Homo sapiens: one gene and its partner. Each later gene encodes a partner of the first gene's protein in a complex. Links are inferred from orthologs where the notes say so. Each region holds a gene or a part of one and is shown on either strand. Other genes may lie near its edges.

What was found. Proteins that work in one complex are often made in the same cells at the same time.
Region 2: the proteins of ARL3 (region 1) and CFAP36 are in contact, whole or in part, in a crystal structure (PDB 4ZI3), measured with the Mus musculus proteins. The link is inferred for Homo sapiens from one-to-one orthologs. Residues at the interface, in NP_062692.1 of Mus musculus: Leu3, Leu4, Ile6, Leu7, Arg8, Lys9, Leu10, Lys11, Ser12, Arg19, Lys35, Glu40, Pro47, Thr48, Gln49, Gly50, Phe51, Asn52, Ile53, Lys54, Trp66, Ile74, Tyr77, Ser80, Tyr81; in NP_080016.1 of Mus musculus: Glu44, Glu45, Ser46, Lys47, Leu48, Thr51, Glu52, Lys58, Val61, Glu62, Leu65, Glu76, Phe79, Gln80, Cys83, Thr84, Ala88, Lys89, Leu97, Val100, Leu101, Ala103, Glu104, Asp105, Phe106, Thr107, Ile108.

What each region holds. Positions count from the first base shown.
Region 1 is NC_000010.11:102,711,336-102,719,188, forward strand, and holds the start of ARL3 (ADP-ribosylation factor-like protein 3), read right to left. Parts: upstream 3,063-7,853; 5' UTR 2,941-3,062; coding exon 2,938-2,940; intron 2,827-2,937; exon of another isoform or gene 2,463-2,826; coding exon of another isoform or gene 2,460-2,462; intron 1-2,459. UniProt on the Homo sapiens protein: Small GTP-binding protein which cycles between an inactive GDP-bound and an active GTP-bound form, and the rate of cycling is regulated by guanine nucleotide exchange factors (GEF) and GTPase-activating proteins (GAP).
Region 2 is NC_000002.12:55,515,478-55,522,717, reverse strand, and holds the start of CFAP36 (cilia- and flagella-associated protein 36), read right to left. Parts: upstream 3,001-7,240; 5' UTR 2,917-3,000; coding exon 2,802-2,916; intron 2,314-2,801; coding exon of another isoform or gene 2,239-2,313; intron 617-2,238; coding exon 552-616; intron 1-551. UniProt on the Homo sapiens protein: May act as an effector for ARL3.

The DNA.
Region 1 (7,853 bases):
GTATATATATATATATATGTATGTATATGTATCTGTATATATATATGTATATATATGTATGTGTGTGTGTGTTTTTATATATATATATGTATATACATAACACTGCACACAGTTTCAGCTAGAAAATAGGAACAGGCCGGGCGCGGTGGCTCACGCCTGTAATCCCGGCACTTTGGGAGGCCGAGGCGGGCGGATCACGAGGTCAGGAGATACAGACCATCCTGGCTAACATGGTGAAACCCCGTCTCTACTAAAAACACACACACACAAAATTAGCCGGGCGTGGTGGCGGGCGCCCATAGTCCCATCTGCTGCGGAGGCTAAGGCAGGAGAATGGCGTGAACCCGGGAGGCGGAGCTTGCAGTGAACGGAGATCGCGCCACTGCACTCCAGTCTGGGTGACAGAGCAAGACTCCGTCTCAAAAAAAGAAAAAAAAAAGAAGAAAACAGGAACAATACTTACATCTCAAGAGATGATGCTATGAGGATGAAATGAGGTCATGTATGTAAAGCATGACACATAACAGCCACTGAAAAGACTACCCTCGTGTTTTGTTTATTTTTTTAAAATAATTTTTCACGGGCCATTTTCTAACCAGAAAACATAAGTAACTGTTGGGAACAATCTTCAAATGTTGAACATGCTTGAGAACGACCACAAGCTCCATATATGTAGAAAGTGCTCCATAAATAATTACTGAATGAAGGAATCATATGTTAAATATAAGTGGTTAGTTACGTGCTAAAATTACTGTCATTTTAGTATTTTAGTAATTCATCAAGAACCTGGCACTGTAAAGCAGGGGTAAAATAGCTGACTCTAAATGTTCAGAGAAACCCATATTTGGGTTTTTGCCACAGTTACCCAAATTTGAAAAAAAATATGTATTTGTCACAGCTGAAGTTTAAAACAAAAACCAAAAAAACCTTGGGGTTCACGCTTCAGTTGTACAGTTAACCATGGGGGCTCATGGGATACCAGATGGGATACACTTAAGTCACACGACTGACTAAATTCAGTGTTTCACTTCAAGTTTTAAGAACAGCTCACGCTTGTGGAGATAGAAAAAAAATGTTTTTGGGAAACCAGATAAAGAATCCGGAATAATTTGTCTTAATTTCTTATTGTTCATCTTAGGAAAAAGGAAAAAAGAAAAACAAAATCTGTTTTCATCATTGAACACAACAGTTGTATACAACAGTGTTGTATATACACTGTAAATTTGTTGTATACTGTGCCAATTTGCACCTGGAAACATGGGCAGTGGTTAATTTACTGTGGCCTGTAATTATAAATTAAACAATCATGGATTACACAGTACACTTAATTGATCAACAAACTGGGAAAAGTTAGCCAACTCTCATGCACTTCTCATCCATAATGATGAATCTCAATCTCTGTTGGTTCGGCATGCCCTTTTCATTCCAATTCTAGCTATTTTCTGGGTAAATATTTATGTTTGTACTCATTTGTTGAGAAAAACTTTAACTTTAAAAGGACAGCTCACGTATAAATGATTAAGAAAAAGAAACAGTTGTAAAAATCTGTTTAGCCTGAGGTTAAAAAAAAACTGCAAGTGTAGCAAGTGTGAAATGTGATTGGCAACTTCAGATCAAATAACCCTACTTCTTTAACAATCTGACAATGTAAAATCAATTGAGTTTTTTTTTTCCTTTCTAAATCTACTCACTGGATAATCTGACCAAACATACATCTATTTTTTTTTTTCCTGGGCATCTAGTTTTTTTGTTTTTTTTTTTACTTCTTAAATCAACAGAAATGGCTCAACATTTCTAAAAGTCAAGAAAGGAACTAGGAAGAGAGTTGGAGCAGTGACTATAAGTTTGATGACAGGCTCTTTGCAGCCAACTAACCTGCTTTAAGTGTTCAAAATCAATTTTTCTTTGATAGCTCTAAAATTACTCAATTCCATTTTAACTCCCTCCAACTAACTGTACAGACATTAACAAGAAACAGAGTGTCAACGGTCAGATCTGTCACAACCATAATTTAGAATTTGGGAAAGCTTTAATTGGGACTGACAGAGAAAAGCCTTGCCCCGGATTGAAGTTCGATCTCCATTTTTAACTTCTCGTTCTTTTCAGTTTGGAGAACTCAAGCTAGGATTAAGATCTTTTGGTCCTGGTATGGTCACACGCAAGAGGAGACTGCAAAAGGTTTCGAAGGAAATTCTAGAGACGGAGCAGCTAATATGTCTTCATCAACATGGATTATGTATTGAATGAAAAATCGGTCATCACCAACAATCAGATCCTGCAAAACTCTCAGCAAATAACTAAATAATTCGGGACTGAGGAAGCGCACCCGCCACGCAGACACCAAGACGGCGTAAAATCCACCAGGCATCCCTTCCAAGCGGCACCCCTTTGTGTCGTGGGACTTACTTCCCTACCCCCCAGGGGCCCGCACAGCGCGAGAAGGAGGAGAGCTAGGCTACCATCTCCCCTGCTACCGCCAGGGCGACCTCAGAGCCAATGGGGCCGGCCTTCTCTCCGCTTCTGGCCGGGCTCCAGACGAACCCCACTTTACTGCAAAGCCGCGAGACCGATTGCCCGGGAAGTCTAAGCCTGCTAGCGAAAGCTGCTCTCCGCAGTTCCTGGGATCCGCCCTCACCCCTGTCCCCAGAGTAATGATGGAGCCCGGGCTCCGCACCCGGCCAGCCGCGCACTCTGCCAGCCCCTTCCCCAAGCCTCGGACCCGCTGCAAGCCCCGCCTTCCTCTCCAGGCCCAGGCCTCCCTCCAGGGCCCACCCTCGGGTCTCCCCGCCGACCCCCGAAATCAGTCCACAACCCAGATAGCAGGCTGAGCGACGTCCCATTCCCTCCTTGGCTTTAAGCGCAGTGCTCCGCCCTGGGCCTGGGGACGGGAGGGGGATAACCGGCCGGCTCCAAGGGGGCCCAGGCCCCCACACTCACCATCCTCCCGCCGAGTCCCTCCTCCTCCTCCTCCTCCTGCTGCCTCCCCCGTTACCAGGGGCAACTGCTGCGGCGCCGCCCCCGACGTCCCTCGCACGCACAGCTGAGGAGCTGAGCAGCAATACGGGGCGGGGTGCAGCTCCGCTTTCCCCAGAGTGCGCAAGTGCGCTAAGGCGCCCGCCCACGCAGTGGGCGGGCTACGGGAGCTGCAGAGGCCGCCGCCGGCTCGCCTGGACCAGGGAGTGGAGAAAGCCTGCCCACGTGGCTGGCGGGAGCCTCCCGGCCTGGGATTGGTCGAAAAGGAGGGGCGTGGGGCGGGCGTGGGGGCAGTTCCCCAGCCCAGGTCCTCCTCTCACCCGGGCCAGTTTTCAAGGCGGGCTGTAACTGGTGGCATTTGTCCCGGGACCAGGTAAGGGGCCTTGGGACAATGGCGCTCGCCCTGTCTACCTCCAATCCCCACATCTCGGGTGGGTGCTGAGATTGCTGTCCTGACTGCCCAGGCGGGGCTGCAGCGCGGGCTGGACTTCCACCTGCAGAAGCCACGTGGCGCGAAGTGCGCCCTGGGGCTGCAGATGGGCCCCTCTGCTCTGACCCCCATTGCCTAGGAGTGCCAGGCCGAGCGGCTGGGGCGTTACGAGCTGTCCGGGATGGGGGAGTACCGATGGGGGGAGGCCGTCTGTCGGAGGGCAAGAAGCAGCCTGGGGGCTGGCCCTGAGCCCTGAGGTGAGCTGAAAGCACAGGTGAAAGGCGTTTTGGGGATCGGCCCGGTTTTTGTTTTGACACAGGGTGTCGCTCTGTCGCCCGGGCCGGAGTGCGGTGGCGCGATCTCGGCTCACTGCAGCCTTTGCCTCACAGGCTTAAGCGATTCTCCCGCCTCAGACTCTCGAGTAGCTGGGATTGCAGGCGGGCGCCACCACGCCTGGATAATTTTTTGTATTTTGTTTTTGTAGAGACGGAGTTTCGCCATGTTGCCCAGGCTGGGCTCGAACTCCTGGGGTCAAGCCATCCGCCCGCCTAGGCCTCCCAAAGTGCTGAGACTACAGGTGTTCCAAAGTGGTGAGCCACTGTGCCCAGCCTCTGGCCGGTTTTGCTAAGCTGCTTTGGACAGGACCGCGTACCATCTGTAGTCCTGGAGGAGGCAAAAATGAGCCTGCATTTTTAGCCAAGGAAGAGCAAGTGGGACACTGGGGTGGGTTGGGAAGTGCTACCTCCCATCCCTTTCCCGATGCAGAGGACTATAAGAAGAGTTTACACAAACGTGCTAGGCCCTGTTCTAGACGCTGGAGACACAGCAGTGGACAAAATCAGCCCGTATGGAAATTACATCCTTCCTAATGAAATACATTTCATACCAAATTTCATTTTCACAACCCCTAGAAATTGGTAATTGCGGCCAGGCGCAGTGGCTCATGCCTATAATCCCAGCACTTTGAGAGGTGGAAGGGGAGGAAGGCTTGAGCCCAGGAGTTGGAGACCAGCCCGGGCAACACAGTAGGACCCTGCCTCTACAAAAAAAAATTTTTTTTAATTAGCCAGGTTCCGTGGCGCACTTGTAGTCCTAGCTACTCGGGAGGTTGAGGCTGGAGGATTGCTTGAGCCCAGGAGCTATTATCACATCACTGTACTCCAGCCTGGGTGAAAGAGCAAGACCCTGCCTCAAAAAAAAAAAAAAAAATGAAAACAAAAATCAACATCTGCTGCTTGCATACCTGCTTCAGATCCTTGGAGAGAAAAAGCAGTTCAGAGCCTTGACTAAGGAGGTGATGAATGGAGGTGATACAGGAGCACAAACCCCTATAATCTACTCATCTCCAGACTGTTGGCCCTTTTGTGAAAAAGGCAAGGGAGGTTGCTCTTTCTAAGTTGTCTGGTGCCTAACAGCCCACTTGCCTTGGAGTCAGACGAGTACCCATAAGCCTATACCTGGGCCTGCTCTTGTAATTATTACCCTCATTTTCCAGCTTGCTCTAGGCAGCCTTGACCTTAATCCTTGCCTGTCTCAGTGGTCTTTGTGTCTGACCTTCTGGGGTCTTTGGCTACCTTGATCTTCCTCTGATGTGAGTACCAGCGATGATGTTTCGTTTTTCTCCCTACCTGGGGCTACAAACAGTAATCTTGTGCACTTCTGCTTGTAAGAGGATACCTCAGAAGGAATTTGGAAGCTTGTTTTCTGATCTCTGATACCATTTGCCAGAGAAAATCTGCTCTTTCTGGGAAGGATGAGCATTACGTCAGAGGTGGCAGTAGTCTATTACTTTTTTTTTCTCTTTGTTTCCCTCTCTTTCTTTCCTTTTTTTTTTTTTTTTTTTTTTTGAGATGGAGTTTCACTCTTATTGCCCAGGCTGGAGTGCAACGGTGCGATCTCGGCTCATCACAACCTCCACCTCTCGGGTTCAAACGATTCTCCTGCCTTAGCCTCCCAAGTAGCTGGGATTACAGGTATGCACCACCACGCCTGGCTAATTTTTTATTTTTAGTAGAGACGGGGGTTTCTCCATGTTGGTCAGGCTGGTCTTGAACTCTCAACCTCAGGTGATCTCTCTGCTTTGGGCTCTCAAAGTGTTGGGATTACAGGTGTGAGCCACCGTGCCAGGCCTCGGAGTTGGCAAGTAGGCTATAGTGGATAGAGGACCTTGGGGAAGTAAGGCCTTAGCTGTTGTCCAATCTTTGAGGACTGGATCTGTTGATTGTTCGTGTTTATATCTGCTGCAAGCGCTTAGTGCAGGGCCAAGTGTATCAAAAATGCCCACTGTGGTGGCCCAATCCATGTGCACCTTTCTAGGCTTCAGTTTCCTCTTCTGTAAACTGAGATCTTAGATCACATGTCTTCAGGCTATGACATTCTCTCTCTCTTTTTTTTTTTTTTTTTTTTTTGTGGAGACGGAGTCTCGCTCTGTCACCCAGACTGGAGTGCAGTGGTGCGATCTTGGCTCACTACAACCTCCGCCTCCCGGGTTCAAGCGATCCTCCTTCCTCAGCTTCCTGAGTAGCTAGGATTACAGGTGCGTGCCACCACGCCTGGCTAATTTTTTGTATTTTTAGTAGAGACAGAGTTTCACAGGGTTAGCCAGGATGGTCTCGATCTGACCTCGTGATCCGTCCGCCTCGGCCTCCTAAATTGCTGGGATTACAGGCGTGAGCCACTGCGCCCGGCCTCAAGCTGTGACATTCTCTAATCCTAGGAGGGAGATATCATTAAATCACTGGTCTGATTTTTACTCCTACTTTGTTCCTAGTAGTGGGACCATACAGAAGTGGGGCTACCCTGGACATGATGATGACCTTTTTAGGGAAGACTAGATGTGGCTTGTGTGGGAGGAGGGACAGTAACTGTAGAAGAAAATTTAGAGACCAGTATGACTTAGTACAGGCAAGGTAGACAGTTTTGCAACTTCATGAAAGAAAGCGTGCTCTTAATTCTGTAACCTAGGCAGGTTCTAAGTTTGACTTAAAAGAGGTGACATCCTTGATGCCAAGAGACCCAAGAAGAAGTTGGAATGCATTTCAGGTAAGCAGTAAATATTCTTCGAGGGCATGTGAAACATGTAGCAGTAAACATCACAGACATGATCCCGATGCTTGTGAGCCTTACAGTCTGTCAGGGGAGGCAGACTTTACACAAATCACAGTCAATGACAAGAAGGTGACAATCACAAACGCCCAGCATGCTGCAAAGGACAGGATGCTGTAGGAGTATATATCACAGAAGGATTTGAGTTTGTCCTGAAGGAGTCGGGGAAGAGTGCCCATTGGGGGACAGTGGGTGTGTGGGGGGAAATGTTCCAGACAGATCGTTTAGTGTTTTTTTTGTTTTGTTTTTGTTTTGGCTTTATGTTTTATTTAAGACAGGGACTCTGCAGTTTCTATCCTGACTTCAATTAAGAAGGCAAAGGCTCTTGCATAATTAGCAAATGTTTAGATTACCCCTTGATGATAGTCCCTCCATTCTGAGAAGCAGAGGACTTTGCAATGTTGTGTTAAGGTGAACAGAGATGTCAGAGAAGGTCTGGCTCTGTGTGTATGTGTGTGCTGAGGGGGAGGCATAGCATTTTGCTCAGTCAGGCTGTCTCCAGCATGTATGAGCCTGGGGCTCTGTAAGCCAAGGCAGCGTGTGTTCAGCCAGCCAAGCTGACTCCTTTTAGGTTCATGTAGAGCATGGGAAAGTGAACTCTTTCCCCTCCTCCCACTCTTGCTTCAGCTGGGACTGAGATAAATGCCTTTGGTCTTTGAAGCAGCCTGCAGGAGGCCAGGTGGCAGGGAGAGGGGAAGTCTGTTTTGGCAGTGGACTCTTTCTGTCTGCCTTCTGACTTCTCTGGAGATTGCCGCTTCAGAGAAGCATCGGGGCCAGGCCAGGGCGCTGTGGATACTCCATATTGAGCCTCTCCTCTTGTTCCTGGTCTTTCCTCTTAGGAAATGGCGTACCTCCAGCATATCAGCTTCCTGATGTCTCTTCCGCCTTAACGAAAAATCTAAAAATTGACCACTGCTCTTCCTTCCCCAACACTGTCCCTTCTGCCTCCTTTCTTGAACTTGAACTCCTGGCCTCCCAAAGTGCTGGGATTACAGGCCTGTGCCTGTCTCCACCTCCTTTCTCTCTTCTTTCTGGTGGTTCTTCCCATCTTTGGGGGCTTCCTTTTCTCGGCTTCTTTTTTTTTTTTTTTTTTTTTTTTGAGACAGGGTCTTGCTATGTTGCCAAGATGGAGTGCAGTGGCGCCATCTCGGCTCGCTGCAACCTTCACCTCCCGGGTTCAAGTGATTCTCCTGCCTCAGCCTCCCAAGTAGCTGGGATTACAGGCGCCTGCCACCACGCCCGGCTAATTTTTTGTATTTTTAGTAGAGACAGGGTTTCACCATGTTAGCCAGGCTGGTCTCAAACTCCTGACCTCGTGATCCGCCCGCCTCAGCCTTCCAAAGCA
Region 2 (7,240 bases), on another chromosome or scaffold:
GCTCTGGAGTTCCACACCAGCCTGGGAAACACAGAGAAACGCCATCTCTACAAAATACAAAAAAATTAGCAGGGCATGGTGGTGCACACCTGTAGTCCCAGCTACTCAGGTGGCTGAGATGGGAGGATCGCTTGAGCCTGGGGAGGTTGAGGCTGCAATAGGCTGTGATAGTGCCACTGCACTCCAGCCTGGGTGACAGAGCAAGACCCTGTCTCAAAAATAAAAAATAAAAAAATCACATGACAACCATGACGAAGTGAATAATTAATATGTCCCTGGATGCGTCAACAAAATAAGAATAAGATATAAAGAATACATGCAAGAACCCATAAAGAGTTGTAAAACCATTCCTTAGAGTAGAGGAGATAAGTCATCCAAATGAGATATTCAGAGCACCTGTGGAGACAGATATAACTGGCACTATTGTTAAGGTAGATTGGATTTTTGTAAAATTAAGGATTTTTAATGTAAAAATATTTTTCTTCATTTAGAAAAGCTATAAGTAGTATTAGCCTAATTACTTTTAAAAATCAGTGAAAAAAAATACTCACTAGTTCTTTGTATTCCTGATGAATCTCTGTATAGGTCAATTTGCTTTCTTCTTCATCATCAAAAACTAAATTTAAAAGAAAATATTACATAGTGTAAAAACCAAATCATTTTATTAATGCAAATTTAAAAATCCACTCCTTCCAAATAGAACTGTCAACCTAGCTCTTCAGCTTTGAATTCTTAGGGTTTATCTTTTAAAAATATATAAATGAATATATCTAAAAATATATACTATTGGCCGAGCACTGTGGCTCATGCCTGTAATCCCAGCACTTTCGGAGGCCAAGGTGGGTGGATCACCTACGATCAGGAGTTCGAGACCAGCCTGGCTGATGTGGTGAAATCCCATCTCTACTAAAAATACAAAAATCAGCCAGGCGTGGTTGTGCGCGCCTGTAGACCCAGCTACTCGGGAGGCTGAGGCAAGAGAATTGCTTGAACCCAGGAGGCGGAGGTTGCAGTGAGCCAAGATTGCACCACTGCACTCCAGCCTGGGCGGCAGAGTGAGACTCCATCTCAAAAAAAAAAAAGAAAAAAAAATATACACACACACACACACACACACACACATATATACTATTAATTGTAAACAAGCTTTTTTGCCTACTTGAGAAAATATTTAAAATGAATACTACCTCATATTTAAGACAAAAACACATTTCAATCAATATGAGGCAATAATTTCTTCATAACTTTTAATGTAATATTATTGTTAATGGTTAAATCCTTTTACAATAGGTTCCATATTATTTTATTGTACTGGAATTTTGCTGATGTAAATGTTACTGAAAGTGACCAGGCAATTTTTGTTACCACAGATAAATAATGAAGTTAAATAAAATCAAAACAAGTGTTTACTGAATGATCATATGTATAAAACAATGCAGTGAGCCAAGATCACGCCACTGCACTCCAGCCTGGGCAACAGAGCGACACTCTGTCTCCCAAAAAAAAAAAAAAAAAAGGAGTACAAATACAAGTTATTTTGTTTTTGAACATTGTTAAAAAATTACCTGTAAAAATAACACTTTAATAACTACGATTTGAATATTGATTATAGCAATGAAAATGTAATGAAAAGATTCAGTGGTCAAACTGAATTTCATCTTTACCAGATTCATGATATCTTGGAATTTAAAGAAGTCTTAAAAGGTCATCCAGGATAACCGACCATTTGATAGCTGAATAGCTGAATCCCTCTAACCCTATTAAGTCGCTATCAGATCCATTCAAACACTGCTGGAGCCGGGAAGCTCATTACCTTCTGAGGCTGGCTAACTCATCTTGGATACATTCTATCATGAAACACTTCCTTCACTGAAATTTGTTTCCCTGTAGCTTGTACCAACTGACCCTAGCTCTATTCTACTCAACCTTACAACACAAAGCAGATGTTCAAATAATTGATGAATACTACTACCCTCAAAGTCTTGCCCGATTAAACAACCACAATAACGCTTGGGCACTCATTTATATGACGTGGTTTCTGGTTCCTTTTCTGCGAATGGGCTGCAAATAGTCTCCACGAACTGAATGCAGAACTCCAAGCCTGAAGAACTGCTCAGAACCCGGAGATGCCTGTCCTTCACGGGGAATATTATGCCATATCTATACGCCTCATTTGTTCCAAGAATGGTCCTGCCCCACCTCGCCAATTTTTGGTATAGCGAAGAGTAGAGAGCTCACCAAGGGGAACACAGGCCACCAAAATCACCGGCTCTGGGCTTCCTGGAGTTATCACATGCCCTCCTTTGCAGTTAACTGTTGGTTTGGAGTGAAATCATTTCTCATTTCCTAAGCTGACTACACCGGGCGAAATGCTAGGGATCATAAGGAACTCAGGTAAACCGACGCTTCTCCTCTCAAGTCTGGCAAAGCTGTTGAAGAAGCCCAGCCAAACAGTCCACCTGCCGAGGGCAGAAACGTTCGGGACAGGGTGAGAGACCGAATTTACGATTCAAGTCTAATGTTCTTCGGACGTGCGCTTCGGCCCCAGAGAAGGGGAGTCTCGGTCCCCGTTTTCAGGTCTGCGAAGGAACACATTGGCAGGGTGAAAGGAATTCCTCCCACACAACCAGCTCTAAACCTGATGACGCGGGTGGAGAAGGTGGTGAGGGGAACGAGACCTTGCGACAGGGGTGGAGACAGGGGGTCGGGGAGACGAGAGATGGCTTGTGGTTACCAACCCCCTGCCCGCCGCTGGTGTGAGAGAGGAGAAAAGGATTGTCGGTTCGGGCTCTGGTTTTTACCTTCACATTTCTGTTCCACAAAGTCCAAGATGGGGATGGACCAGTCTGGGCCTCGCAGGAACCCCGCGATGCTCTCCACTACCCACTCCACCTCGTCTTCTTCTTCCGCAGCCATCCCGCCCCAAAGGGGCAACGGGGAAGATCCCTAGGCCAGACCGCCGGACCCCGGTTAGGCCTTTGGGCCACAAGGAGCCGAGAGGGAGTAGGGGAAGAGCTGGCCCGCAGTCGCTCAGCCCCCAGGATAGAAGCTACCAACCAGTTAATGCAAAATGGTCGCTATGGCAACACACGTAGCCGCCCTAGACCGCGGCCCGGAAGTGAAGACAACTTTCCAGGAGCCTGCGCACTTAGCGGGGAGGGCAAACGTTTGAAAAACGTTTCTGATTGGTTAAAAAAGAACAGTGGACGAGGGCTGAGAAAAGAAGTGTAGCTATTGGCTGGAAGTCATAGACAGATTGCGCTCTCTCTTCTGATAAATGCGTAGGAGCCAAGGTTTAGAAAACGCGCAGTAGACGGGCGCGGTGGCTCACGCCTGTAATTCCAGCACTTTGGGAGGCCGAGGCTTGCGGATCACCTGAGGTCAGGAGGTCGAGACCAGCTTGGCCAACATGGTGAAACCTCGTCTCTACCAAAAATACAAAAATTAGCCTGGCGTGGTGGCGCCGCCTGTAATCCCAGGTACTCGGGAGGCTGAGGCAGGAGAATCGCTTGAACCCGGGAAGCCGAGGTTGCAGTGAGCCACTGCACTGCAGCCTGGGAGACTGCGTCTCAAAAGAAAAACAGGAAGAAAGAAAAGAAAAAAGAAAAGGCTCAGTGAGGGTCTGAGGTAACCGGGTCTCCACCTGACAGGGCTTCAGCGGCTGCAGTTCATCATTGTATCCCCAGCACCTCAGTCCCAACCATTTTCAGACCATTGGCCCAGAGGCGTTTGTAATTAAAGGGTTGTCTGAAAATACAAAGCCGAGCTGTGTGAGACTCGCTGATTGTCTTACGGTCAGTTTGCATCTGTATCTTCAGGCGGGTCTTTAATCTCTTACGCTTGGATAAAGATAACTAGAATTAGGAGCTTTTCAAGGGCAAGAGCAAAGTTAATACTCACTTAAATAAATGCCTTGGTAACCAAATCTTATTATAACTCCAACTCAGCATTTAGGTGGAGTCCATTGTGGAATGGGGTCTTCAGTGGTCATTGTGAAGGTGTTTGGAGTCCCAAAATATCTTCAGACAACCATATATATATATATATTTTTTACATAAATAGGATTATATGTACAGTTATGAATTTTTTTCTTATATCTTTATCTTTTAAAAATATAAATTTGTGCTTTCTTTGCAACTGCATAGTATTCCATAAACCATCCTTTAGTCTATTTTTATTTTGTGAATGTGCACACAGTATCTTACCTGAATGCATGAAGATGATCATTATGTGCCTTTTTTTTTTTTTTTTTTTTAGACAGAGTCTCGCTCTGTCGCCCAGGCTGGAGTGCAGTGGCGTGACCTCAGCTCACTGCAACCTTAGCCTTCTGGGTTCAAGAGATTCTCCTGTGCCTCAGCCTCCAGAGTAGCTGGGATTACAGGCATGTGCCACCACACCCAGCTAATTTTTGTAGTTTTAGTAGGGACAGGGTTTCGCCATGTTGGCCAGGCTGGCCTCGAACTCCTGACCTCAGGTGTTCCGCCTGCCTCGGCCTCCCAAAGAGTTAGGATTACAGGCGTGAGGCACCGTGCCTGGCCATGTGCAATTTTTTTCTTTTTCCTCCTCCGTGCTGTGGATTTGCCATTTTTTGCTTCCACAAACTGCTGTTATAAATGTTGCATCCTGAGAACTGTTGGTTTTATTTACTATTCCAAGGGATAGATTCCAGCAGAATTGCTAAATGAAAGAATATATATCTTGGTTAATTTGACCAAACCTCAACTGCTACATTAAATTACTTGAATTTTTTAAACCCGTAAACAATTGTGTAATGAATATACTTGCACATATGTTTTTGAACCCTAGTCTCATTATTTCCCTCGAACAAATTCTCATGGGAAAATTACTGAACTAATTATTTTAATTATTATTATTATTTTTTTTTTTGAGACGGAGTCTCGCTCTGTCGCCCAGGCTGGAGTGCAGTGGCGCAATCTCGGGTCACTGCAAGCTCCGCCTCCCGGGTTCGCACCATTCTCCTGCCTCAGCCTCCCGAGTAGGCGGGACCACAGGCGCCCGCCACCACGCCCGGGTAATTTTTTGTATTTTCGGTACAGACGGGGTTTCACCATGTTAGTAGCCAGGATGGTCTCGATCTCCTGAGCTCGTGATCTGCCCGCCTCGGGCTCCCTATTTTAAATATTTTTAAAAAATAGTCTTTGCCAATCTACTAGGTTAAAATGATAGCCCCCCCCACAGCCCTTTTTTTTTCTCGAGACAGAGTCTCGCTCTGTCACCCACGCTGGAGTGCAGTGGTGACATCTTCGCTCACTGCAACCTCCACCTCCCGGGTTCAAGCGATTCTCCTGCCTCAGCCTTCCAAGGAGCTGGGATTACAGGCACCCGCCACCAAGCCTGGCTAATTTTTGTATTTTTAGTACGGGCAGGGTTTCACTATGTTGGCCGGGCTAGGCTGGTCTCAAACTCCTGACCTCAAGTGATCTGCCTACCTCGGCCTCCCAAAGCGCTGGGATTACAGGCATGAGCCACCACGCCCGGCCTCATCCACACTCATTGTTCAGCATTAGAGTCTTTCTTTGTCTTCAGTCTCTTCCAAATGCTTCTCAATTCCACTGGAAGCAGATAACTATGATGTAAGAGTTTTCCTTTCTTTTATTTTCTTAGCCTTGTTTCTAAATCTCTAAATCTAAATGGGCAATGTGGATTCCTTCAGGCCTGCAAGTTCTCTCATTTGTTTCAAAATATTTTATTATTTCATTTTCTCCTTAAAACATAAGGCTTTTCTTTTTATTCATTGCTTGAGATTCTTATAAGCAGGATGCTTACACAGATTTGAGATAATGTATTCAATACGCTTATCATAAAATAAACTCAGAAGAACAGCTTGCACACTGTTAGAGCAATGCATATGGATGTACTGGGGCAAGAGTAAGAAGATAGCATGGGTGTGTGTTACGCATAGGTCATTTAGCAGTGTTTTCAGTGTTTCACAGTAATGCAAAGCACAGTCATCTCTTGGAAAATCACAACTTATTTTGGCAATTTTATTACTCCTTTTACTGTTCTTACCACATAGGAACAAATTTTAATGTTAAAGATATGTATAACAGGCCGGGTGCGGTGGCTCATGCCTGTAATCCCAGCACTTTGAGAGGCCAAGGTGAGTGGATCACTTGAGGTCAGGAGTTTGAGACTAGCCTGCCCAACATGGCAAAACCTCGTCTCTACTAAAAATTAGCTTGGCGTGGTGATGGGCGCCTGTACTCAGCTAATTGGGAGGCTGAGGCAGGAAAATCGCTTGAACCTGGAGACAGAGGTTGCAGTGAGCCGATATTGCACCTCTGTACTCCACCCTGGGCAACAGAGTGAGACCCTGTCTCCAAAAAAAAAAAAAAAAGATACATGTAACAAAACTAAAATAGATGCACACACATAAATAAATATATATACACAGTACATGACACACATACACACACCAAGCACTTTTACCATGGGGTTGATAAAGGCTAGGATTACAGGCGTGAGCCACCGCGCCTGGCTGAGAACACATATTAAAAGTACTTGGGATTATGCTAGGTACTTAGTAAATGCTTAATACATATTAGATATTGTTATTGTATGTAGTTTAGGTATCGGTTTGCTTAAAAATTTGCAGCATGAATGCAAGGAACTATTCATTTTATTTTGCCTCTTCTTTCAATGACAAATCATTTGTGTTTTTTGCTGCAGCCCTAGGAAATCTCTTGCTTCTCCCCATCCCCTGTACTGATACTGAGTGTCTGCCCTACTAAAGGAATATAAAATTCAAATCGTAACAACATGACTGCATTTTCAAGGACCTTGTGAATAACAATTATTCACATTTATATAGTACTTTACAGTTTACAAAGAGATTACATCTATTTGACTTACAGCAAACTTGTGAGCTAAATAAAGATGATATTAAGATTTTCTCCCTCTTTTAAATGGTGTATTAGTTTGCTAGGACTGCTATAACAAATTACCACAGACTGGGTGGCTTGAGCGGCAGACATTTATTTTCTGAAAGTTCTGAAGTCTATGTCTCTGATCAAGTTATTGGCAGGGTTGGTTTCCTTTGAGGCTTCTCGTCTTGGCTTGCAGATGGCTGTCTTCTCCCTGTGTCTATACCTGGTCTTACCCCTATACAGCCTATGTACTAATCTCCGTTTCTTATAAGCATATCAGTCATATTGGATTAAGGCCCCCTAATAACCTCATTTTAACTTAATTACCTCTTTAAAAACCTTATCTCCAAATA